Linked DNA regions of Homo sapiens. The protein of the gene in region 7 purifies or fractionates together with the protein of the main gene of each other region. This does not show direct contact. Each region holds a gene or a part of one and is shown on either strand. Other genes may lie near its edges. The genes, in order: ZDBF2, ATL3, ATXN7L2, NRBF2, CEP43, MON2 and TAF12.

The links.
Region 1: the proteins of TAF12 (region 7) and ZDBF2 purify together in Homo sapiens (affinity purification with mass spectrometry; one large-scale study listed by BioGRID and IntAct). This does not show direct contact.
Region 2: the proteins of TAF12 (region 7) and ATL3 purify together in Homo sapiens (affinity purification with mass spectrometry, with the first as the bait; one large-scale study listed by BioGRID). This does not show direct contact.
Region 3: the proteins of TAF12 (region 7) and ATXN7L2 purify together in Homo sapiens (affinity purification with mass spectrometry; one large-scale study listed by BioGRID and IntAct). This does not show direct contact.
Region 4: the proteins of TAF12 (region 7) and NRBF2 purify together in Homo sapiens (affinity purification with mass spectrometry; one large-scale study listed by BioGRID and IntAct). This does not show direct contact.
Region 5: the proteins of TAF12 (region 7) and CEP43 purify together in Homo sapiens (co-immunoprecipitation; one large-scale study listed by IntAct). This does not show direct contact.
Region 6: the proteins of TAF12 (region 7) and MON2 purify together in Homo sapiens (affinity purification with mass spectrometry; one large-scale study listed by BioGRID and IntAct). This does not show direct contact.

The regions. Positions count from the first base shown.
Region 1 is NC_000002.12:206,291,663-206,295,162, reverse strand, and holds part of ZDBF2 (DBF4-type zinc finger-containing protein 2), read right to left. Parts: intron 3,153-3,500; exon of another isoform or gene 3,101-3,152; coding exon of another isoform or gene 3,047-3,100; intron 1-3,046.
Region 2 is NC_000011.10:63,654,377-63,657,876, reverse strand, and holds part of ATL3 (atlastin-3), read left to right. Parts: intron 1-3,500. UniProt on the Homo sapiens protein: Atlastin-3 (ATL3) is a membrane-anchored GTPase that mediates the GTP-dependent fusion of endoplasmic reticulum (ER) membranes, maintaining the continuous ER network. It facilitates the formation of three-way junctions where ER tubules intersect.
Region 3 is NC_000001.11:109,486,905-109,490,069, reverse strand, and holds part of ATXN7L2 (ataxin-7-like protein 2), read right to left. Parts: intron 3,064-3,165; coding exon 2,853-3,063; intron 2,553-2,852; coding exon 2,266-2,552; intron 1,688-2,265; coding exon 1,605-1,687; intron 1,224-1,604; coding exon 970-1,223; intron 788-969; coding exon of another isoform or gene 730-787; exon of another isoform or gene 141-729; coding exon 1-140.
Region 4 is NC_000010.11:63,139,828-63,143,327, forward strand, and holds part of NRBF2 (nuclear receptor-binding factor 2), read left to right. Parts: intron 1-3,500. UniProt on the Homo sapiens protein: May modulate transcriptional activation by target nuclear receptors. Can act as transcriptional activator (in vitro). Involved in starvation-induced autophagy probably by its association with PI3K complex I (PI3KC3-C1).
Region 5 is NC_000006.12:167,019,897-167,023,396, forward strand, and holds part of CEP43 (centrosomal protein 43), read left to right. Parts: intron 1-2,512; coding exon 2,513-2,739; intron 2,740-3,500. UniProt on the Homo sapiens protein: Required for anchoring microtubules to the centrosomes. Required for ciliation.
Region 6 is NC_000012.12:62,598,401-62,600,976, forward strand, and holds the end of MON2 (protein MON2 homolog), read left to right. Parts: 3' UTR 1-2,076; downstream 2,077-2,576. UniProt on the Homo sapiens protein: Plays a role in regulating membrane trafficking of cargo proteins. Together with ATP9A and DOP1B, regulates SNX3 retromer-mediated endosomal sorting of WLS away from lysosomal degradation.
Region 7 is NC_000001.11:28,615,568-28,619,067, forward strand, and holds part of TAF12 (transcription initiation factor TFIID subunit 12), read right to left. Parts: intron 2,464-3,500; coding exon 2,386-2,463; intron 1-2,385. UniProt on the Homo sapiens protein: The TFIID basal transcription factor complex plays a major role in the initiation of RNA polymerase II (Pol II)-dependent transcription.

The DNA.
Region 1 (3,500 bases), on a different chromosome or scaffold from region 7:
TTTAAAATATCACGGTAAAGGTGTTAAAGAACTTAAATCAGGTTGCTAGCTCCTGACCACTGTGTTACAACTCTTGGAATTATTTTCTTCCATGTTGACTTCAGAGGTCCATGCTAGTGCTCCTAGCCCCAGGAACAATCTAAATTATGATGCTTTCAAAATCCTGCTACGAAACTCTCCACTGTCCAGGACCCATCACCAGAGTTAGACTGCCTGGTGATTAAAGGGGACAAATGCACAAGGAAACAAATAAATATTCAGTTAAAATTCAACGTTACTGAATAAAGAATATGTGGTACATATACATCATGGAATACTACACAGCCATAAAAAATGAGATCATGTCATTTGCAGCAACATGGATACAGCTGGAGGCCATCATCCTAAGCAAATTTACACAGGAACAGAAAACCAAATACCACATATTCTCACTTTTAAGTGGGAGCTAAACATTAGGTACATGTGGACATAAAGATGGGAATAAAAGGCACTGGGAGACACTGGGTCAGGAGAGACAGGGCAGGGGGAAAGGGCTCGAAAAACTACCTATCAGGTACTATGCTCACTAGCTGGGTGATGGGATCATTTGTACCCCAAACCTCAGCATCACACAACATACCCACGTAACAAGCCTGGACATGTGTCCCCCCGAATCTAAAATAAAAGCTGAAATTACAAAAATAAATACTAAAATCCAACCTTGTCCTCTCTCTGCCAAGGCAAAAAGAAAAAAGCAATGTGAATAGAAAACTTCATTTACATCCTATAAGGTATCCGTTCCTTTAGATTTTTTGAATTGATGTATAACATAAAGTACACAAATCATATGCATACAGCTCAATCAACTATCACAAAGTAGACACATCCTTACCATCTATCCATAAAAAGTTGACAAGCATCCAGAAATCCCTGTAATGCCCCATCCCAATCCCTTCCCTTTTCCCCAAAAGTAACTATTACCTAACTTTTAATACTATAGTTTTGAAATTTTCTGAAATGTATATAAATGGAGTCATATAATATGTATGCTATTGCATTCAGCTTATTTTACTCAATATTATATATGTGATATTCATACATATTGGCTGAATCTGTTCATTTTCTTTTCTGCATATTCATTGTATGAATATGCCATATCTTATTTATTCATTCTACTCTTGATGGACATTTGTGTTGTTTCTAGCTTTTGGCTATTACTAATAATACTATGAAGAACCTTCTTGTATGTGTCTTTTGGTGCCAATGTGCATGCATTTTTGTTGAGTGCATTATTAGGAGTGAAACTTCGGGGTCATAAAATTTGCATATGTTCAGCTTTAGTACTCCCTACCGACCAGTCTTCCAAAGTGGCTGTACAAATTTATATTCCCTACCAGCAGTATTCCTATCTCCTTATCAACACTTGCTATTGTCAGTCTCTTTAATTTTAGCTATTGTAAGGATGTTTATTGTTATATCACTGTGGCCTTAATCTGTAATTTTTGCAATAGCTTTTCATATTTACTAGCCATCTGGATATCCTCTTTTACATTGGGTCTGTTCAAGTCTCTCTGTTTTTCAAATGGATGTTCTGTCTCTTCCTTATGGACTTGTAGAAATTCCCTATTCAGGACACCAGTTCTTTGCTCAATTATATGTGTTTCAAGTACCATCTTCCTCTCTGCAGCTTCTTTTCACTTTCTTAATCATCTTCCATTGTTTAACTTTATTGCAGTCCGGTTTTATCTTTTTTTCTTTGTCAGTGCTTTTTGTGGCCAGAAATCTCTCTTTACCATCAAAGTCATAGAGATTTTCTCCTGTTTCTAGAAGCTTTACTATTTTGGCTACAACATGTAGCCAAATCATAGTCTACTTCTAACTGATTTTTATATGCAGGGTGATTCGGCAATAAAGTTTCATTTTCCTCTCCATATGAATATTCAATTGACCCAGTATCATTTATTGAAGAAAGTCCTGTCCTCACTGCTGTGCAGCACCTTTGTCACAAATCAGACATCCATAAATGTGTCTGTTTCTGGAATTCCTGGTTTTTTTCCATGGTCTTTCTAACTCTGCAGCAAAACTGCACTATTTTAAAGACTAAAGACTAAAGTTTCATAAGTTTTAGTATCTGATAGAGGACATCTATTCACTTTGTTCTTAAGATTATCCTAGTTCTTCTGAGCCTTTTACTTTCCCACATTTATTTTTGGAATTGGCTTTTCATTAAAAAAAAATACTTCTCTGAGATTTTGATTGAAATTACATTGGATAAATATAACAATCTAGGCAGAACTGACATGTTTACAATATTGATTCTTCAATCCATGAACATGAAAATTTCTTTCAAGGTTTATAGTTTCTAGTTTAAAGATCTTACATTTTCTTATGTTTATTCCCTAGATTTTGATGTTCTTTGATGCTATTGTAAATGATTTTTTATCTCATTTTCTGCATGGTATCTGTATATAAAAATACACTTTCTTTTTACATTAGTGTAACAACCTTTTAAAATCACTTATTGATTCTAATGGTTTATCTAGATATCTTTTTAGTTTTTATGTCCACCATCATGTTGTGTATAAATAATAGTTTTATTTCTTCTTATCCAATCTTTATCATTTTTATTTTTCTTTCCTTATTTCTTTGACTAGGACCTCTGACAAAATATTGAATACAGTTGTAATTCAAGCATCAAACCTATTTTCACTTAATGTATTACTGATAGAGTTGTATTTAACTTTTTCAATCTGTTACTCTTGCCTATACAACTATCCCTTTTCCTCTCCTTTCTTGTCTTCTTGTGGACTACGTTTCATCATTTCAATTTTTCCTTTTCTGTTAACTCTGTAGTTAGTTACAGACTTTTCATAGTCTATTTTGGTAAGAGATTACAATGAGCAACCCTGAACTGTCAACGCCTAAAATTACTTGTTACTTTTATTCTCTTTATAAACAATGCAAAGTCCTTAGAAATTAACATCATTTACTCCCCTCCCAATTTATATGCCATTGTTGTTCATCCCACAAGACAGTATTCACTTAGATTGATTGCCTACATATTTACCTTTCCACTGTTCTTCATTACTTCCTGTATCTCTGAGCTTCCATCGGGAATCATTTTCCTTCTGCCTGAAGAACTCCTTTTTAGTTTTTCCTTTAGTGAGAGTCTGCTGGTGACAAATTCCCTTAATTTTTATTTCCTGAAAATAGTTTTATTTCACCTTCCTTATTAAAAGATATACGTATTGAGTAGAGAATTCTAGGTGGCAGTTGTTTTCTTTCTTTTGGCTTCCATTGTTTCTGTTAAATACTTCACTAGATATGGGCCCCATATTACTTCACTGCTTTTACAGTTCTCCAAAGCCTTGAAATACAAGGCTGCAAACATTGTCAACAAAATATTATTAATAGCAAACCAAATCCAGCAACATATAAAAAGGATTATACACCATGACCAAGTGGGATTTATCCCACAGATGCAAAATAAGTTTAACATCTGAAAACCAATCAATCTAACT
Region 2 (3,500 bases), on a different chromosome or scaffold from region 7:
TCAAAAAAAAAAAAAAAAAGCCAATGGCATTTTTAGTTTCATATTGTGTTTTCCACTGGTATATACCTGTTGATTTGTTTGTGTCTTTTATGAACTGTTATTTTCTGAAATTTTTTTTCAATAAAAGGAAGGAAGATGTGAAAACAACTTTTTATCAAAGTGAATGATTTAAAATTAATACATATTGATTGTTTTTAAGATTCTTAAATAAAATGCATGAATATAGTTTAAAAGGTCAGGTACTACTGTAAGGCTTCTAACAGAAAGCAGCTGTCATGTGTGTTATTCTCCTCTCTACCCAGTTTTCACTTCCCAGAGGCTGATGCTCTTATGTGTTACCACTTCTGTTCTTTACTTCCTTACTCCTGTATGGGTGGCACAGACCTGGCTGTTGTTCTGGGAGTTGAGCAGGGAAATGGCATTGGGGATCTCACTGTTCAGAAGGTGGGCATTCACTATCCCCTAGCTATCAGTAGGGCTTCTTAGCCCCAGTCTCATCTATGCCTTGTAAGCTATGGGCATAGAGCCTCTCCACAGATTTCTTTGTAAGGATCGGGAGGGGTAAGTCATGTGTTTCTTATACAGACTTTCATCCATTACTTCTGTTTTTAGCCCAATCCTATAAGCATGCCTTCACACCTGTTTGTCCTTTTTTTTTTTTTTTTTTTGAGATGTAGTCTCACTCTGTTGCCCAGGCTGGAGTGCAGTGGCACCATCTTGGTCACTACAGTCTCCGCCTCCCAGGTTCAAGCAATTCTCCTGCCTCAGCCTCCTCATTAGCTGGGAGTACAGGTGCACACCACCATGCCTGGATAATTTTTGTATTTTTAGTAGAGACAGGGTTTCACAATGTTGGCCAGGCTGGTCTGGAACTCCTGACCTCGTGATCCGCCTGTCTCAGCCTCCCAAAGTGCTGGGATTACAGGGGTGAGCCACCACACCTGGCCACCTTTGATATTTTGAAGTGCTGGAGTGTTGGTACTGAATTCTTTTAGCTTTCATACATCTGAAAAATCTTTATTTTGCCTTTGTTTTGGAAAATATTTACTCTTAGTGTAGAGTTCTAGGCCAACGTATTTTTCTCAGTACTTCAAAGGTGTTGCCCCTTTGCCTTTTTGCTGACATTGTTTCTTTTTTTTTTTTTTGAGAGGGAGTCTCTCTGTTGCTCAGGCTGGAGTGCAGTGGTGCGATCTCGGCTCACTTCAACCTCTGCCTCCCGGGTTCAAGCAATTCTCCTGTCTCAGCCTTCTGAGTAGCTGGGACTACAGGCGCGCACCACCACGCCTGGCTAATTTTTGTATTTTTAGTAGAGACGGGGTTTCGCCATATTGGTCAGGCTGGTCTTGCACTCCTGACCTCAGGTTATTCACCTGCCTCTGTTTCCCAAAGTGCTGGGATTACAAGCATGAGCCACTGTGCCCAGTCTGCTGACATTGTTTCTGACAAGAAATACACTGTTATTCTTATTTTTGTTCTTTTGTACCTAATCTGTCTTTTTTGTCTGGTTGCTTTTTTCTTTAAATTAAAAAAAATTTTATTTTCGTGGGTACATAGGTATATATATTTATAGGGTATGTCTGGTTGCTTTTAAGATTTTATCACTGTTTTTGAGCAAATTATTATGTGTTTTGATGTAGTTCTTTTTTTTTTTTTGAGACGGAGTCTCACTGTGTCGCCCAGGCTGGAGTGCAGTGGCGTGATCTCGGCTCACTGCAAGCTCCGCCTCCCGGGTTCACGCCATTCTCCTGCCTCAGCCTCCCAAGGAGCTGGGACTACAGGCGCCTACCACCACGCCCGGCTAAGTTTTTGTATTTTTAGTAGAGACGGGGTTTCACTGTGTTAGCCAGGATGGTCTCGATCTCCTGACCTCGTGATCTGCCCGCCTTGGCCTCCCAAAGTGCTGGGATTATAGGCGTGAGCCACTGCGCCAGGCTGATGTAGTTCATGTTATTTGTATGTGGGTTTTGTTGAGCTTCTTGAATCTGCAGATTTATAATGTTTATCAAATTTGGACATTTTAAGGTTATTATTTCTTCAAGTTTTTTTGGTCTGTTACTCCCTTTGGAGACTCCTATTACATGTGCCTCTTGCTGCTTGAAGTTGTTCCACAAGATGTTCATTTAAAATTCTTTGGCCGGCGCGGTGGCGCACGTCTGTAATCTCACACTTTGGGAGGCCGAGGTGGGTGGATCACCTGAAGTCAGGAGTTTGAGACTAGCCTGACCAACATGGTGAAAACCCATCTCTACTAAATACAAAAAATTAGCTGGGTGTGATGGGTCATGCCTGTAATCCCAGCTACTTGGGAGGCTGAGGTGGGAGAATCGCTGGAACCCGGGAGGTGGAGGTTGCAGTGAGCCGAGATCGCACCATTGCACTTCCGCCTGGGCAACAAGAGCTAAACTCCATCTAAAAAAAAAAAAAAAGGCCAGATGCGGTGGCTCACGCCTGTATTCCCAGCACTTTGGGAGGCTGGGGTGGGCGGATCACCTGAGGTCAGGAGTTCGAGACCAGCCTGGCCAACATGGTGATGCCCTGTTGCTACTAAAAATACAAACATTAGCTGGGCGTGGTGGCGCCCACCTGTAATCTCAGCTACTTGGGAGGCAGAGGCAGGAGAATTGCTGGAACCTGGGCGGCGGAGATTGCAGTGGGATTAGGAAGAGTACTCAGTCTTGCCTCAGTAATGAGGAATAACAACACTCTGGTTCCATTTAACAAATCTAAACAGCAAGAACAGAAAAAACCAGAGTTTCCAAATTACTTAACTACATCTCAGAATAAAGCTAGATATTTTATAGGAATGCAAAAATAACCAGCACCCAACAAGGGAAAATCCACAAGTCTACATCCTATCAAAAATTTGCAGACATAAAAGAAGCAGAAAAATATAACCCAAATGAGGAGAAAAATCAATCAAAACTGTCTCAGAACTAACACAGATATTAAAATTAACAGAAAACAACTTTTTTTTTTTTTTTTAGACAGTCTTGCTCAACTAAAAATACAAAAATTAGCCGGGTATGGTGGTGTGCACCTGTAATCCCAGCTACTCAGGAGGCTGAGGCAGGAGAATCGCTTGAACCTGGGAGGTGGAGGTTGTGGTGAGCCGAGGTTGCGCCATTGCACTCCAGCCTGGGTGACGAGCAAAACTCTGTCTCAAAAAAAAAAAAAAAATAGGCCAGACATGGTGGCTTAGGCCTGTAATCCCAGCACTTTGGGAGGCCGAGGTGGGTGGATCATCTGAGGTCAGGAGTTCAAGACGAGTCTGACCAACGTGGTGAAACCCTGTCTCTACTAAAAATACAAAAATTAGCCGGGCATGGTGGCTCATGCCTGTAATCCCAGCTACTCGGGAGGCTGAGGCAGGAGAATCGCTTGGACCTGGGAGGTGGAGGTTGCAGTGAGCCAAGATCGTGCCATTGTACTCCAACCTGGGCAACAGAGTGAAACTCCGTAATCCCAGCACTGTGGGAGGCTGAGGCGGGCGGATCATGAGG
Region 3 (3,165 bases), about 81 Mb from region 7:
CAGATGTCCCCTCCTCCTCACTCTCTTCGCTGGAGGCCTGGGTCCCACCCCGGGGCATGGGGAAGGGGAACAGGCCTGGGTCCCCATCACCACCACAGGGGCCTTCATCATCCAATTCACTCTCGGAGGAGGCCCGGGACCTGGAAGGGCCAAAAGGGATGCCAGGGGAATGTGACTGTTGTGGGGTCAGAGTAGGGGCATCCTTGAACCTGCCGAGCTCAAAGAGCAGGGCACCAGGGCAGACACCCTGCAGGGCAATCAGAAGAGGACAGAGGGAAGGGAAGGACAGGAGGGAACGACACAGCTCACAGAGTAAGAGACAGAGAGACTGCTCCCAAGGGATTCTCTCCCCAGCCCCTTCACCTCCCAGCCCCTTCCTCCTCAGGGGATAATCTGCTGCAGATCCGCCTCCTCCAGAAAATCTTCACAGTTAAAACTGTACCCAGCTCTGGTCAGCCCAGTCAACTCGCTCAACCCCCTTCTTGCATCACATATTCCTGTGAGCCTGTCTGTGAGCTGAGCCTGTGTTTCGTGTCTGCCCCTTGTGTGACAGGCAGAGATGCATGTGTGTCTCCTTCAGCAAGTCAGGCTCTCCCTGGGGTCCGGCATAGCCTCTGCACGCGAAGGGGCCAGTGAGTGAATACACATAGGGCTGCCTTGCCCAGGAGTGTGACCCTTTCAGCTCCCCAGTGACAAGTTTCGGTCTGTTGGAGGCAGCTGGGAAAATGTTCATATCCTGAGTGTTGGATCTGGCACACTGCCGAGAGGCTGGGGTGCTGTGGTATGCCTGGTTGGAAACAGGGGAGTCTCCTGCTTCCACACCACTGTCAGGAGCCCCAGGAATACCCCCACACTCAGGGCTGAGGGAGTGCCTCTTCCAGGACACTCCCTGAGCCTGTTTCCAGGGGCCCCTGATGGCTTAGGGGCCAAGTACCCCCAGGTGAGGTAGGGGTTGGATTCTAGACGTACCTGGGCAGTGCACAGTATGGGTAGGTCTGCTTGGCACGAACAGAGAAGGTGCTGCTGGGAGCAGCCACCGCTGCTACAACCTGGACTGAGGAGGGGAGCTCCTGGGAGGGGCGCTCGAGAACTTGCTCCTTGCGCCCTGGGCTCTTCTCCTTGGGAGACTCCCCTTTGCGGGAGTTGGCCTTCAGCTCTGCCACCAGCACGTCAAAGTCCTTGGCCCGGCCCTGGACTTCCCGGCGCTGGTGTACTGAGTGGATCTAGAATACAGCAGAGTGGAGAGCTGGGGAGTAGGTATGAACTGAGAAGGGGTGAGGGACGGCAGGGTGCTTTGGCCCGGGCAAGTTGGGGGGCAGGGAGAGAGGTGGGCATATTTGCAGCTGTGTTCATGTGTCTTTGTTTCATTCCCCCATGGGGCCAAAACCCTCCTTTGGGATGGGGGAATCTGGAAACTCCCTCCTTCCCACTGTTCCCACCTTCTGCCCAGGAGGGGCATACCCATCTCCCCTTCCCTTGGGTGGGCCTAACTGCCCTCCCTTAAGCTGGACCTTCAGTAACATCGACATTCCTCTCTTTGCCCAGGGAAGGAGTGGGCAAGCCCTGTGCTGTCCTCCCTCACCGTGCAGTGGGAAGGGGGTTACCTTGCAGGTCAACAGGCGGGTACAGATCTTTTTGGTCTCTGGATTTATTACCCCACACTGCCTGTTGAGGTCGCACTCCTTCCCTGTGGGGAAAGCACTTCCAATGAACCTCAAGACCATTTCCAGGAGTTTACAGGAGGATTTGGCCGCTTCCTGCCAAGGGCCTGAGAACTGGTACTAAGGCAGAAGAGACTCCAGCCCTCAGCCTGGGGCTGTACCTTCCAGATAAACTTCTGGGCATCAACATCTCCTTGCTGGGTGTGAGAACCATCCCTATCCCAATTTCAGGTGCGCCTTTTGGGACTTCAAGCCCAAAGCAGGGCAACACACATCAAGAAACAAAAGCAGCCATGGGCATCTGGGAGGCCAGAGAAGCCAGCTGTGAGATGTGTCTGGCTGGCGCCCTGGATCTAGGTGAGAAAAGAGTGAGAAAGAACTTCACCTCCTGGGCATGGGCTCCCTCAGCCTTGATCAGGAGACACAGGATGGAGAGAAGCTTCCCAGGAAGCAAGCAGGTCAAGAGGTGACGGGGCTCCTATACCCTACAACCTGTGATGGCCAGGCCCATAAACCTGACCTCCTCCTCATCCAGCCCAAGGACAAAGCAGCCCAAAGGAGTCCCCACTCTACATTCTGGACCCCCAAGACCACAACTACTCACGAGCCATCTTCCGGTGGGTTTTAGGGGGCAGCCTGGTCCCACTGGGCTCCTTTTCAGGAGGGCTGCCTTCAGCCCAGTGACTGGACCCCTCACTGGGGATGATCTCGATGTTCTCTCTGCCAGGAGGTTCTTTAGAAGGGGGAGCCATGGGAGGTTTTCCAGGGGAGTCCTTGGTGAGGCCCCCTGGCTGGCTGAGAAAAGCAGAGGGTGGGGCCACCCTGATTCCATGTCCATCAGGCTTCGGGAGACTGGACATCTTCTCCAGATTCACCACAGGCACGAAAAGGCTACACACAGAGAGAGGGGGTTGGCTGAGGGAGGGGAGGGGAGGCGAGGCCTGGGGCCTGGACTCTAGCCCAGAGCCATCTCTTTCCCAGCCCTGGAATTTGGGTGGGCTCCAGCAGGGGTGTGAAACACGGGAAGAGGAGACCCCATCTTCCCTGGAATATATGGAAGGAAGCTGCAGACAGGACGGCTGCCTCCTGCTGTGAGGAGTATGCCTTGACCCAGGGCTGTCTGTATTGATGTCAGCCCATCCATGGGTCAGGGTCAGGGCCAGTCTTAGAAAGTTTCCAGCCTCTCCTTACCAGAGGTTGTCCTTCTGGGTCTTCTCAGGAGGCTGGTGGCCACGGCTCCGGGACCCCTGGCCCTTCTCCCTGGAGGAGGTTTTCGTGGAACCTGGGGCCCTACAAGCTGGGCCCTGCCCATTCACTACATGGCATTTCTGAGAGCTGGCAGGGGCTGGAGGTGGGGGTGGGGCCCGGCCATAAAGCTTGCTGAGGGGCCCATGTCTTCTTTCTGTCACCAGGAGGTGGAAAGAATAATCAAGGTGAGTGGTATCACCACTTCCTTCCCCAACCTAACCATGTCCATAGACTCACATGAGAGAATCTGAGTTTC
Region 4 (3,500 bases), on a different chromosome or scaffold from region 7:
AGACGACAAGGTAATACAACAATGTGGGCCTGGTATGGTAGCTCACACCTGTAATCCTAGCACTTTGAGAGGCCGAGGCAGGTGGACTGCTTGAGCCCGGGAGTTCAAGACCAGCCTAGGCAACATAGTGAAAACCGGTCTCTACCAAAAGAAAAAAAAAAATAGCTGAGCATGGTGGCACATGTCTGTGGTTCCAGCTACTTGAGAGGCTGAGATAGGAGGATCACTTGAGCCCAGGAGGTTGTGGCTGCAGTGAGCCGTTATCATGCCACTGCATTCCAGCCTCTGGGTGACAGAATGAGACCCCATCTCAAAAAAAACAGCAAGGAAATCATAAGGAAGAGAAAATATAGTTCTATACTATAGTTATCAATACCATAAGTTTATGTCAGCTGTTTACAAAACGAATCATCTGTCAGAAATGATGGGCAACCACAGCTGTAGACCTCAATCTAACGTAACCCATCAAGCAATTAAAAAAGAATGTGGGAAGTCCCACAGAATCATATGGATTGCCTAGGAAGTACACAGAGGTGGGACTGCTTTATTGTGAATTTCTTTGAATTACCAGAGAAACATGTTTATGGACTTACTACCCTTTTCTTTTTGAGACAGTATCTTCCTCTGTCCCACAGACTAGAGTGCAGTGGCGTAATCACGGCTCACCGTAGCCTCAACCTCCTGAGCTTCTGATCCTCCTACCAGTCCCTCCTGTAGCTGGGACTACAGGTGTGCACCACTACACCCAGCTAATTTTTCTATTTTTTGTAGAGATGGGGTCTCACTATGTTGCCTATGCTGGTCTCAAGCAGCCCTCCCACCTCGGCCTCACAGAGCGCTGGGATTATAGGCATGAACCTCCGTGCCCAGCCTATTACTTTTTTTTTTTTTGAGATGGAGTCTCACTCTGTCACCCAGGCTGGAGTGCAGTGGCGCAATCTCGGCTCACCACAACCTCTGCCTCCCAGGTTCAAGCGATTCTCCTGCCTCAGCCTCCCGAGTAGCTGGGACTACAGGTGGGCGCCACCATGTCTGGCTAATTTTTGTATTTTTTGTAGACATGAAGTTTCACTATGTTGGCCAGGCTGGTCTCAAACTCCTGACCTCGTGATCTGCCTGCCTCGGCCTCCCAAAGTGCTGGGATTATAGACGTGAGCCTCCGCTCCTGGCCTCAGCCTAGTGCTTTTAATGGCTGTGATTCTACCAAGAACAGTATTTAAAGAGAGACTAGTTTTAATATGTGTAAACTGTAAAAGTTGTTTTAAAAATGAGAAGCACCACCAAGATAGGTTTTCTGTAAAATCTTCAGTTTATAAAAAATGCAATTTAGCTGGGCATGGTGGCTCATGCCTATAATTCCAGCACTTTGGGTGAGTGAGGGAGGAAGATTGCTTGAGCCCAGGAGTTTGAGACCAGCCTGGGCAAGATATCAAGACCCCACCTCTACAAAAAATAAAAGTTAGCTGGATGTGGTGCCGTGTGACTGTATTTCCAGCTACTCAGGAGGCTGAGGTGGCAGGATTGCTGGAGCCCAGGATATTGAGGCTGCAGTGAGCTATGATTGCACCACTCCACTCCAGCCTGGGCAACAGAGCAAAACCCTGTCTCAAAAGTAATTAAGATGAAAATTTTTTTAAAATGCAATTCAGTCTAGACCCAACTATATTGTCAACTTCTTGATGGCAGGTACTTCCATCACTTCTATTGTCTTTTGTAGTACTTAACGAGGGCTATATCGAGTATGTACCAGTACCAGGCACCATTCTAAGCACTGTGATGTTTCAACTAGTTTAATTTTCACAAACTCTTTTGTTTTTGGTGCCATCAAATTTACATAAGCAGACAATAACTTTCATTTTAGAGATGAGAAAACTGAGGCAGATAATTGGGAAAGCCGGGCTTATGTGTCTCATATGTGGTCAAACTGAGATTTGAACGTTGGCAGTCGAGCTCTATAACGAGTTTGCTGTGTGTCTGATAAGAACATAGTAGGAAATGTACTTAAAATACGAAATTTGATTGCTCTGGTGCCAAATAACCTAGAGGAGATGGTGTGTTTTTGTTGAGCTCAGTAATAATCTGAAACTATAATGAGATTTAACTCCTAAATTGGCAGACTGGTTAGAGATTGGACTCTACATGGGGATGTTTTAAGGGAGCTGGGAGAGCCATGAGGACCTGCTCTCACTGTTTGAGAACTTTTTATTTTTTTGGTGTTCAATTAAGAATTTATTCCGTCATCACAGAGTTTGAAGTTTAATTATGGAGCTACATAAATATCCATACTAGAAGAAAGTGATTGAAATCATCAGCGACACACACAGATAGAAAAAAGGTGTTAGAATGAAGTAACCTGAAATAGCATCTCATCCCTGCTTCTTAGAGTGTATCCATAAGCCAGCAACTTTGGCTTTACCTGGGTGGAATCTCAAGCCGTACTCCAAACCTCCTGAATCAGAACCTTTGTTTTTTTTGTTTTTTTTGTTTTTTTTTGAGATGGAGTTTCACTCTTGTTGCCCAGGCTGGAGTGCAATGGCACGATCTCAGCTCACTGCAACCTCTGCCGCCCTGGTCCAAGCAATTCTCCTGCCTCGTCTTCTCAAAGTGCTGGGCTTACAGGTGTGAGCCACCATGCCCGGCCTTTTAGAATCTGTATTTTAACCAGGTGATTTGTATTTTCATTAAAACCTAGAGCCTTATTGCTTATTGATTTAATACCACTTGCTTTAATAGTATCAAAACATGTTCATTAGAGAAATTAGGTTAATCATAACTGCTTGTGCATACTAGCTTTCTTCATCATGTACATTCTTTTCCCAAAATACCTGTATAATTTGTGGGTACTAGAAAATGCTCATGTGTTCAGAATGTATTTTTTGCTCAGTCCAAGTCTCCAGGTTAAAATTCATCCATTATTTTAAGCCCCCAGTCATTTCTTTTCTTTCTTTCTTTCTTTTTTTTTTTTTTTTTTTTGAGGCTGTCTTGCTCTCTTGCCCAGGCTAGAGTGCAGTAGCACGATCTCAGCTCACTGCAACCTCCGCCTTCCAGGTTCAAGCAATTCTTGTACCTCAGCCACCTGAGTAGCTGGGATTACAGGCATGTGCCACCATGCCTGGCTAATTTTTGTACTTTTAGTTGAGATGGTGTTTCACCATATTGGCCAGGCTGGTCTTAAACTCCTGGCCTTGAGTGATCTGCCTGCCTCAGCCTCCCAAAGTGCTGGGATTACAGGCATGAGCCACTGCGCCCAGCCTACCCAGTCATTTCTTGTGACCTATTGTTGTTCCCAGGCATATGTTAAGACTTAGAGGAAAGTTTGATTACTATTTAAAAAATAAAAAGTATCTGAAATCCTGTAATTGAAAGGCACGAATCTTGTCTTTAAGATTGTTGCTTCTTTCCTACAAAAATAGAAGTGGGGAAAAGGCAAACAGCAAGGCATTGCTGGAAGTGCTGTTTTCTACTTTTGTCTTCACCTGTGTTTTATACTGAGTATGATT
Region 5 (3,500 bases), on a different chromosome or scaffold from region 7:
TACATTTTTCAGTTTCTGTCATGCCAGTTATTCTTTGGCACTTTCTCATGAGTGTTTAGAAGGAGAGAATCTGTCGTGGCCACAGGCTGTGTCATTGTACATATGTTTAAATATCACATCAGGGTATTTATTTCCAAATGCATATTCTTTTAAAAAGACATAAATCCATTATTAAAACAGTGTAAAAATCAGAAATTACAACTGCTGTGAATTACATAATATTTTTCTATATTTGATAATACCAGGAAAATGTCAAGAAAGTTGTTAGGAAATTTTTGAAAGTTTCCATCCCTTTGAAAATATGTTGTCTAAAATTATAACTTGCTATTTATTTTTTCAGACATCTCTTTATAATCATTAATTTATATTAATAACATGGAATGTGTAGCTCTCTAGAAGGCAATAAAATTTGCACAGCATATATCTTGCCTACTGTCAACTAGTCAAGACCTCTACCTGGTGTAAAGATGTAAACGTATATCATAAGACATGCATAATGCATTCTGTCTGTACCCATATGAAAAGTGAAACCATCCTTCAGGAGCGTCTTGTTCGGTAATGTCTAACCCAGACTTTGGTCACCATGCTTCAGTAGTTACTACTCTTTAATTCTTTCTCAGCCATCCATCCCTTCCTAGATATAATTTGATCTGAAAAATATGAATCTAGTTCAATTCTTGAGGAAACTCATGCCTAGGAAATTAATTTACTTAAGATTACACGGGCCATGTATGGTGGCTCACGGCTCACGCCTGTAATCCCAGCACTTTGGGAGGCCGAGGCGGGTGGATCACTTGAGGTCAGAAGTTCGAGACCAGCGTGGCCAACATGTTGAAACCCTGTTTCTACTAAAAATACAAAAATTAGCCAAGCGTGGTGGCACGCGCCTGAAATCCCAGCTACTCAGGAGGCTGAGGCAGGAGAATCGCTTGAATCTGGGAGGCGGAGGTTGCAGTTAGCCCAGATTGCCCCACTGCACTCCAGCCTGAGTGACAGAGCGAGACTCTGTCTCAAAAAAAAAAAAAAAAAAAAAAAAGATTATACGACTGGGTGTAGTTTGTGCTTGTAATCCCATAAACCCAGCTACTTGGGAGACTGAGGCAAGGAGGACTGCTTGAGCCCAGGAGTTTTAAGACCAGCCTGGATGACATAGTGAGAGCCTGTTTCTTAAAAAAGAAAAAAAAAAAAAAGAAAAAAAAATGGAGTTAATAATTTTGGACTACATTCCAGATTCCTTGTTTCAGTTGAGTGCTTTTTCTATTATTCCACGGGTATTTTACACAATACTGCTCTCTTTAGTATGCAAGGCTGAATTTTGGGAAATTGCCATTTTTAACCCATAAAGCCCACAAATTCATTATAATTTAGCTTAATAGCATAAATATTGAGTTAACCTCTGGAAGCAGGCTTTGACTTTGATATTGACCTGACCACTTAACTCTCTGGAGACTTTGACAAGTGACATCAATGTCTGTCTCTGTGTTTCCTGATTTATATCCACAGATAGAAAGCCATCTCCAGATCCTAGGGCCATTTTCAAGATTCAGTGAGATAAGGTGAAGCATTTGAATGTTCTCCATAAATGTCAGCTGCTTTTATTATTACTAGCATTATTTTTTGTTTTCATTATTATTATTAACATAGACCCGTCTAAGGGCAGAAAGAAATCTGACCAAGAATGGAGTGAAAGTCGGCTGTGAAGGTTAGGACTCCCTGAAAACAAAAAAGAAAAGTGGTAACATCACTCTGTATCCAAGGGCATGGATAAGGATGATTCAGAATTTTTTTATAACATTGATGTTAATATACATAGAGAAATACACACACACACACACGTATATATGTCCATGGACATCAAAATGAGGTATAGGTTAGGAAGTTACCCTGGAAGTTAGAATTGAGATAATTACTTTGATTAGCAAAGGTTTATGTTAGAAATATGAGTGGTTGAAGGCAGCGCCTTTCACCTTGATGCCTGTTGTGTTTAGCACTGGATAGAAAATTGCTATTTTTACTGATGACTACTTTAATGCTTGGTTCATTCATATGAAATAATCTTTCTTTTCTCCTTTAATAATAATGATCTCTCCTGATTTCAAGTTGAAAATGTATTAATTTAAGATAACTTATGAAGCAATGACATATGGAAGAGGAGATGGGAAATTGTTTCTCAATGGGAAAGTGTTTATAAATGGGATAGGTATACTAAAGGTATTTCCATTTAGGGAAAGAGGAAAGGAATGGTATTAATATATTTCTCTAATATTTTTCCCCCTTTGAAAGTTTGCCATGTTAGGAATCCTGGGGATGGAGTGATGAATTGTGGCATTGCTCTGCAGTTCACGCTGCTGAGAGCTGCCCCAACACACACACACACACACACACACACACACACACACAAAGGTTGCACACACACAGGTTTGATTATGCTCATGAGACTTCTTTTATTATTGAAAATATCTTAAAGTTTTATCTCACCAAGGAGGCCTTTTCTCTTTCCCTCTCTTTCTAGAAGGCCAATGATGAGGCCAATCAGAGTGATACAAGTGTCTCCTTGTCAGAACCCAAGAGCAAAAGCAGCCTTCACTTACTGTCCCATGAAACAAAAATTGGATCTTTTCTAAGCAACAGAACTTTAGATGGCAAAGACAAAGCTGGCCTTTGTCCAGATGAAGATGATATGGAAGGAGATTCTTTCTTTGATGATCCCATTCCTAAGCCAGAGAAAACTTACGGTTTGTGAGTAAATGGTTTTTGAGCTATGAGACTAGGGGTTTAAAAATAAGATAAATGTTTTCATTTTATAGTTAAAAAATAATGAACTATGGAAGGTTTATAATTATTGGATCCATAAATCTGACTATGCGTTGTTAATGCCTTTCATGTTGTAAAACAATCCCAGATTTTAGAAAAACCTAGACATGATTTATTCCAACAAGTAAGTGTAGATTGAGTGTCAGCCACTTGCCAGGGCTGTTCCAGGGTGGGGTGCAGCAATGATAGAAGAGGGAAGACTCCTGCCCTCAGGAAGCTCATGCTCTGGTGACAGAGTCAGGCAATGAGGGTTATGCTGCAGTGTGTGGGGTGATGAGAGCAGAGCAGTGATGGGAGCCCGAGTGTGTGGTCAGGGCAGGTGCATGTCAGCTGTCCAAATTGGAGGGGGCCTCACTTGGAGGTGCCCAGTGAGCAAAGAGCTAGAGGAGGTAAGGGAGTTGCCGTGGGTTGATGGAGCTTTGGGGAGAGGAAACAGACAGCAGGGAGGCGAGTTGGGGGTAGCAGAGAGAGCAAGATGGGGATCGGATGAGGTGGACTCAGAGATGAGGAGCTGGACGGCTTTTCTTTGAGACTGGAAGCCCTGAGGATCTTGATCTGGCGTACATTACAGAAGGATCCTGAGGTTGCTGGGGAAGGTTGGTCTTAGAGTTTCCAGTTAGGAGGCCGTTAATGATGGAAAAGGATTTGCCAGTAAGTGCTAGAGAAAAGTAATATACAGAGTGGCA
Region 6 (2,576 bases), on a different chromosome or scaffold from region 7:
AACTGCTTCCTTCTATGATGTTTACTAGATGGAGAAAAATACTCCATACCTATATTGCAATTTTATTTTTATCTAGAAAAAGAAAATATTAGGCTTCAGACCCAACTGTGCAAATTTCATTTGCTTTCCATCTCTTACTACTACCTCTGTGTCATAATTTAACACGTAACATACAACTCCTGTCTCTTAAGGCAGCTACCATATGGTGTTTATGTCAGACTGGATATATTTATCTAATTTTGTGAAATTATTTTTTAGTTCCCAACACAATTCTTGAAAGTAATACCACTGTTGTTACTCTTTCTCCTTACAATTTTTATGTTGTTGAGATGTATCAGTTATGTATTATAATCATGAAATTGTATTGGCCTCAAACCCAAATTTTCTTTGTAGTCTAGGATAGATTTTTCATGAAAGCTATATAGTTATAACTGTGATTGTACAGATTGTTTATTTGTTTTACAGCTAACATTAAGCATGATTCCAGGTTTTTAATTATGTTCCAGCAACACTAGTGTTTCTTTATAACTTAAAATCATAACCACTTTGATAATTTACCTTTGGATCTGACCAGTGATTCATTTTTTTCTTGAATATACTTTGTGTTTGCTTTCTCATCCCCGTTAAGTCTGAAACATTATTGACACCCCACATCACTTACTCTGTTTAAAGACTTTACGAGTAGTGAGTCACATGTTTAGGATGATCACTTTGGGAAAAAAAAAATTATAGAGTAAAGGGGAAATGTTCTTGAGAGCTTTATTAAAACCATTAATATATAAAATGAAAAAATAATAAACAGAAGACACGAAGTGTCTCTCAATAGTTTAGAAAGAAAGATTTGGAACTTTAAGTAAAAATGCTAGGTCAAGTAAAAATCCTGATGTAGATTAGATTATCTTAATCTTATGAGCATTTTTTTTTAATTTGGTGAAGCTGTTTTGAAACTGCCTGTCCATATCAATGCCAGACTATCTCTCTACCTCTCAAAGAAAATAATTTGCATTAAAATTCCTTTTTTTGTTATGTAATGAAAGTATAAAACAAGAATTTGTACGTTACTCAGTGTGTACTGCAGTCAGATATAGTTAAAATAATTTTTCTGATGCGTAATTTTAACCACCATTTCTGGAGTACCTAGTATGTGCAGGCCAAGGCTTTGCCTATATTATTCCCTTTAATCCTCAAAGTAGCCTTGCAAAGAAGTTATTTTCATTTTACAGAAGAGTCAAGGATTAGGGGGTTGAAGTGAGCTGCCTAGAGTCACATACCTAAAGTCCAGGTGGATCACTATGTCTTGCTTTTTCAAAAGCAGTTCTTTCTACTACAGTACAATAGTTTCATGTTTTACAGTCCATTAAAATCCAAGACTTATAAAATAAACTAAAAATACTCTTGAGGCAATTACTATTTCTATGATGGGCACTGGGACAAATATACTTGAACATAACAAAGAACTAAAAATACTGTGAAAAAAAGATTTGTCTTAACGATGACCTTGAAAGTTGCATTGGGTTTTTATTATTGGTCCAGGTTTAAAACATTTTATCTATTTAAAACATATGTTGTGTGTTTTAAGAAGTTATGTTATAAATAACAGCATTGTGGTTAAGAGCCCAGAGTCTGGGGCCAGGCTTCTTAGATGCAAATCCCAACTCTGTTATTTTACTAAATGTGTGACCTTGGGCAAGTTAATTAACCTGTTTTGGTGTCCTCCTCTGTGAAATGGAGTTAATCGTGGTATTTAACAGAATTCAAAATGTAGTGTGTTCTAAAGCGCTGTGCCTGGAGCATCATCACCACTAGGTGGTTAGGGAAGTAAAACACATTTGGCACACATCATTCAAGAATGGCCAGAAAATCCATGTCTTCCCACAATAGGGACCAATTTTTTGCCTTTCACCAGACAACCACTGAATGTTAAGAATCTACTGTGTGCTAATAACTGTGTCCTTGCTGTATGACAGAAGCTATTTGGAGCGCTCTCAAGTGCTTATTACAGCTAGTCAAGGAAACCGCATATATAAAATAATACTGGATACAAGACTATACAATTAAATACTGGTGTATCACTAACAACTGTTTAGACCCTGTTTTTGCGTTAAGCATTGGGTTAGTCTCTGTCCTCATGGAGTTTTCAGTTTTATAGGGAATACAGACCTTTTAACAAGTATGTAAAGTACAGTAAAAGACAAGTACAGATTAAAATGAAATCATAAAATAGGAACCTTAGCCTAGTCTTCTGTGGTTCAGGTTAATAGTGCTGTTAGTAGTCAGAAGGAAGTTTTTTAAAGAAATGAAAAAGCTCAGTGGTTAAGATAGAAATTAAAGTTAGTCTTGATGGCTACCTAGATTTTGGATGAGTTCAAAGGATATACGGAGGGATTTCAGGCAAGATAATGTGAGCAAGGCATATCTGTGAAATAGAAAACAGTGCATTTTGGTGTATTGTGTGAAACAAGGTTGGTTGTGAAGGATTGGGTCCCTTCATAAAATTCCTTGAAAGCCAAGGAGAGTAGTTTAGATTTGAGATGGCAGGGTCTGGAGTGATTTAAGAATAAATTATAAAACCAAGG
Region 7 (3,500 bases):
TCTCAGGAGGCTGATGCAGGAGAATCACTTGAACCCGGGAGGTGGAGGTTGCAGTGAGCCAAGATCATGCCGCTGCACTCCAGCCTGGTCAACAGAGCGAGACTCCGTCTCAAAAAAAAAAAAAAAAAAAAAAAAAAAAAAAAAAGAAGCTAAGGGATAAATCCTCAAGATAGGAGACTGGAATTTTCTCCGGAGATATTGAATGATTCCAGAGAAAAGACTTACAGATACTGACATTTAGGGAATCTTCCATTAGGAAGGTTGACTTGTGGACAAATTACTCTGAAGTAAAGTCTTGTGGTCTGCTAGAGTGAACCGAGACCAGCTCATAAAAGCCAACTGTGTACCTCTTTTCCCAAGTTTGTATTTAGTGATGTCATGTTGGTAGAAATAGTTACACCACAGAAATAATAAAGCACTGCAAATCGGGCATTTTTCTCCAAAGAGCTAGTTGTTAAACATTTACCCATATATTACTGGGCCAAATCCATCAATTATACTTCAAATCAGCTTTTCAGTGAGTGATTCTTTAAGAATGAATAGCCAGGGTCGGGCATAGTGGCTCAGACCTATAATCCCAGCACTGTGGGAGGCTGAGGTGGACAGATCACTTGAGGTCAGAAGTTTGAGACCAGCCTGGCCAACATGGTAAAACTTTGTTACTACTAAAAATACGAAATTAGTCAGGTATGGTGGTGTGCACCTGTAATCCCAGCTACTCGGGAGGCTGAGGTGGAAGAATCACTTGAACCTGGGAGATGGAGTTTGCAGTGAGCCGATATCGCACCACTGCACTCCAGCCTGGGCAGCTGAGCAAGATTCTGTCTCAAAAAAAAAAAAAAAAGAAAAGAAAAAGAAAAACAGTAAGGAAAGTTATATGGACCAGCAGGCGTGATAGCTCATGCCTGTAATCCCAGCACTTTGGGAGGCCGAGGTGGGTGAATCACCTGAGGTCAGGAGTCCGAGACCAGCCTGGCCAACATGGCAAAACCCCATCTCTACTAAAAAATACAAAAATTAGCCAGGTGTGGTGGCACATGCCTATAATCCCAGCTACTTGGGAGGCTGAGGCAGGAGAATCACTTGAACCCCCGGGATGCAGAGGTTGCGGTAAGCTGAGATCCTGCCACTATACTCCAGCCTGGGCAACAGAGCAAGACTGTCTCAAAAAAATAAATAAATAAATAAATAAAAGTTATATGGCACACATTGAGTAGTGTAAAAAATTCTCATCTACCATAATAGGGAATCAACAGAATCTTATAAAATTGGCCAGGCACGGTGACTCACACCTGTAATCCCAGAACTTTGGGAGGCCAAGGCAGGTGGATCACCTAAGGTCAGGAGTTTGAGACCAGCCTGACTGACATGGAGAAACCCCATCTCTACTAAAAATACAAAAATTAGCCAGGTGTGGTGGTGCATGCCTATAATCCCAGCTACTCAGGAGGCTGAGGCAGGAGAATCGCTTGAACCCAGGAGGCGGAGGTTGCGGTGAGCCAAGATCGCGCCATTGCACTCCAGCGTGGGCATCAACAGCGAAACTCCGTCTCAAAAAAAAAAGAATATTATAAAATTAATGGGTCAAAGAGTATCTTTTTAAGTATATTACTTAGAAATATAGAAGAATGTTACAGAAACAGCTAAAATTGTTGAAAGTGATTGCCTGTGAGCAACAGACTATGCCGTTTTTAACAGGCAAAAGTAGCAGCAGTTATTGGGTATAAAGCAAATTCAGATTTGTCTGTGCTCTTATTTTATTTATTTATTGCAGTGGTACAATCTTGGCTTACTGCAACCTCGGCCTTCTGGGTTTAAGAACACTTCAACCTCCCTAGTAGCTGGAACTACAGGTACACACCACCACGCTCAGCTAATTTTTTTTCTTTTTTTTTTTTTGAGATGGAGTCTTGCTCTGTCGCCTAGGCTGGAGTGCAGTGGCATGGTCTCGGCTCACTGCACTCCGCCTCCCAGGTTCACTTCATTCTCCTGCCTCAGCCTCCCGAGTAGCTGGGACTACAGGCGCCCGCCACCATGCCCGGCTAATTTTGTTTTTTGTATTTTTAGTAGAGACGGGGTTTCACTGTGTTAGCCAGGATGGTCTTGATCTCCTGACCTTGTGATCCGCCCACCTCGACCTCCCAAAGTGCTGGGATTACAGGAGTGAGCCACCACACCTGGCACTCAGCTAATTGTTTAATTTTTTGCAGAGACAAGGTCTCATTATATGGCCTAGGCTGGTCTTGAACCTCTGGGTTCCAGCAATCCTCCTGCTTTGGTCTCTCAAAAGGCATGAGCCACTGCATCTGGCCTGTTTGTGCTCTTAACCACTATGCTATACCGGTTCTCAGGGACCAGTTTCTGGGGTACCCAACCCCACCTTACCTCCTCCACATCTTCATCCAACTGCTCATTAGGATCCACTTCTCTTACTAAGTCCTGTAATTTCTTCTTGGTCAATACCTAAAGTTAATTGGAAGAAGACTTTTCAACCAGATATTAAGGAAATGAAACAAATCATTACCCTGTAATGAAGAAAGGCTGTCAAATTGTTGGTTTTAGTTTCCACTTTCCAATGAGTTCACAGTCTGGCCTACCTGACTATGCTGCTGTAAGACTACACTCTCAAGACAGAAGTAACTTAGGGAAAGGTGGAAAGAGCAGTTTGAAGACAGGCCAGCATCCAGCTGTCAGGCAGTATATTTCAGCCTCATGTCTTTTTCTCACTGTGTCTCTTCACATGTAGAAATTTGCAATTCTCTGACCACCACAAATTGTACCATGCCCCTTGCCTTTAGACAAGTTTGTTTTTTTGTTTTGTTTTGTTTTTGAGACAGGGTCTTGCTCTATTGCCCACTGGAGTGCAGTGGCATGATCATGGCTTACTGTAGCCTTGACTGCCAAGCTCTCCCACCTAAGCTTCCCAGCTAGCTGGGACCATAGGCACGTGCCATCATACCTGGCTAATTTTTTTTTTTTTTTTTTTTTTTGAGAGACAGGATCTCGCTATGTTGTGCAGCCTGCTCTTGAACTCCTGGCCTCAAGTGATTCTTCCACCTCAGCCTCCCAAAGTGCTGTACACACTCTTCCTCTCTTCTTCCTTCTTGCTTAGCTCATGGTGCCTCTTTCTGATGCTTTTCCTAGCCCATCCCAGTAAAGGTAACCACTTACTTCCTCCTTTGGCCTCTACTGTATCCTGTGTACCCTTTATCATTGTGCATATTTATATACTTCCCTGTTTCTGACTTAATAGGCTAAAAGCTCCCTGAGGGCAGCCTTCATAAAGGAAATGTCATGTTACATACGTATGCCATTAAAAAGTAATCAAAAGAAAGCCAGGCACAGTGATCTGTGCCTGTAGTCCCAGCTACTCAGCAGGCTGAGGCAGGAGGATCACTTGAGGCCAGGAGTTAGAGACTGCAGTGAGCTATGATTGTGCCACTACACTCCAGCCTGGGGAACACAGGAAGACCTCATGTCTTAAGAAACAAACAAAAAAA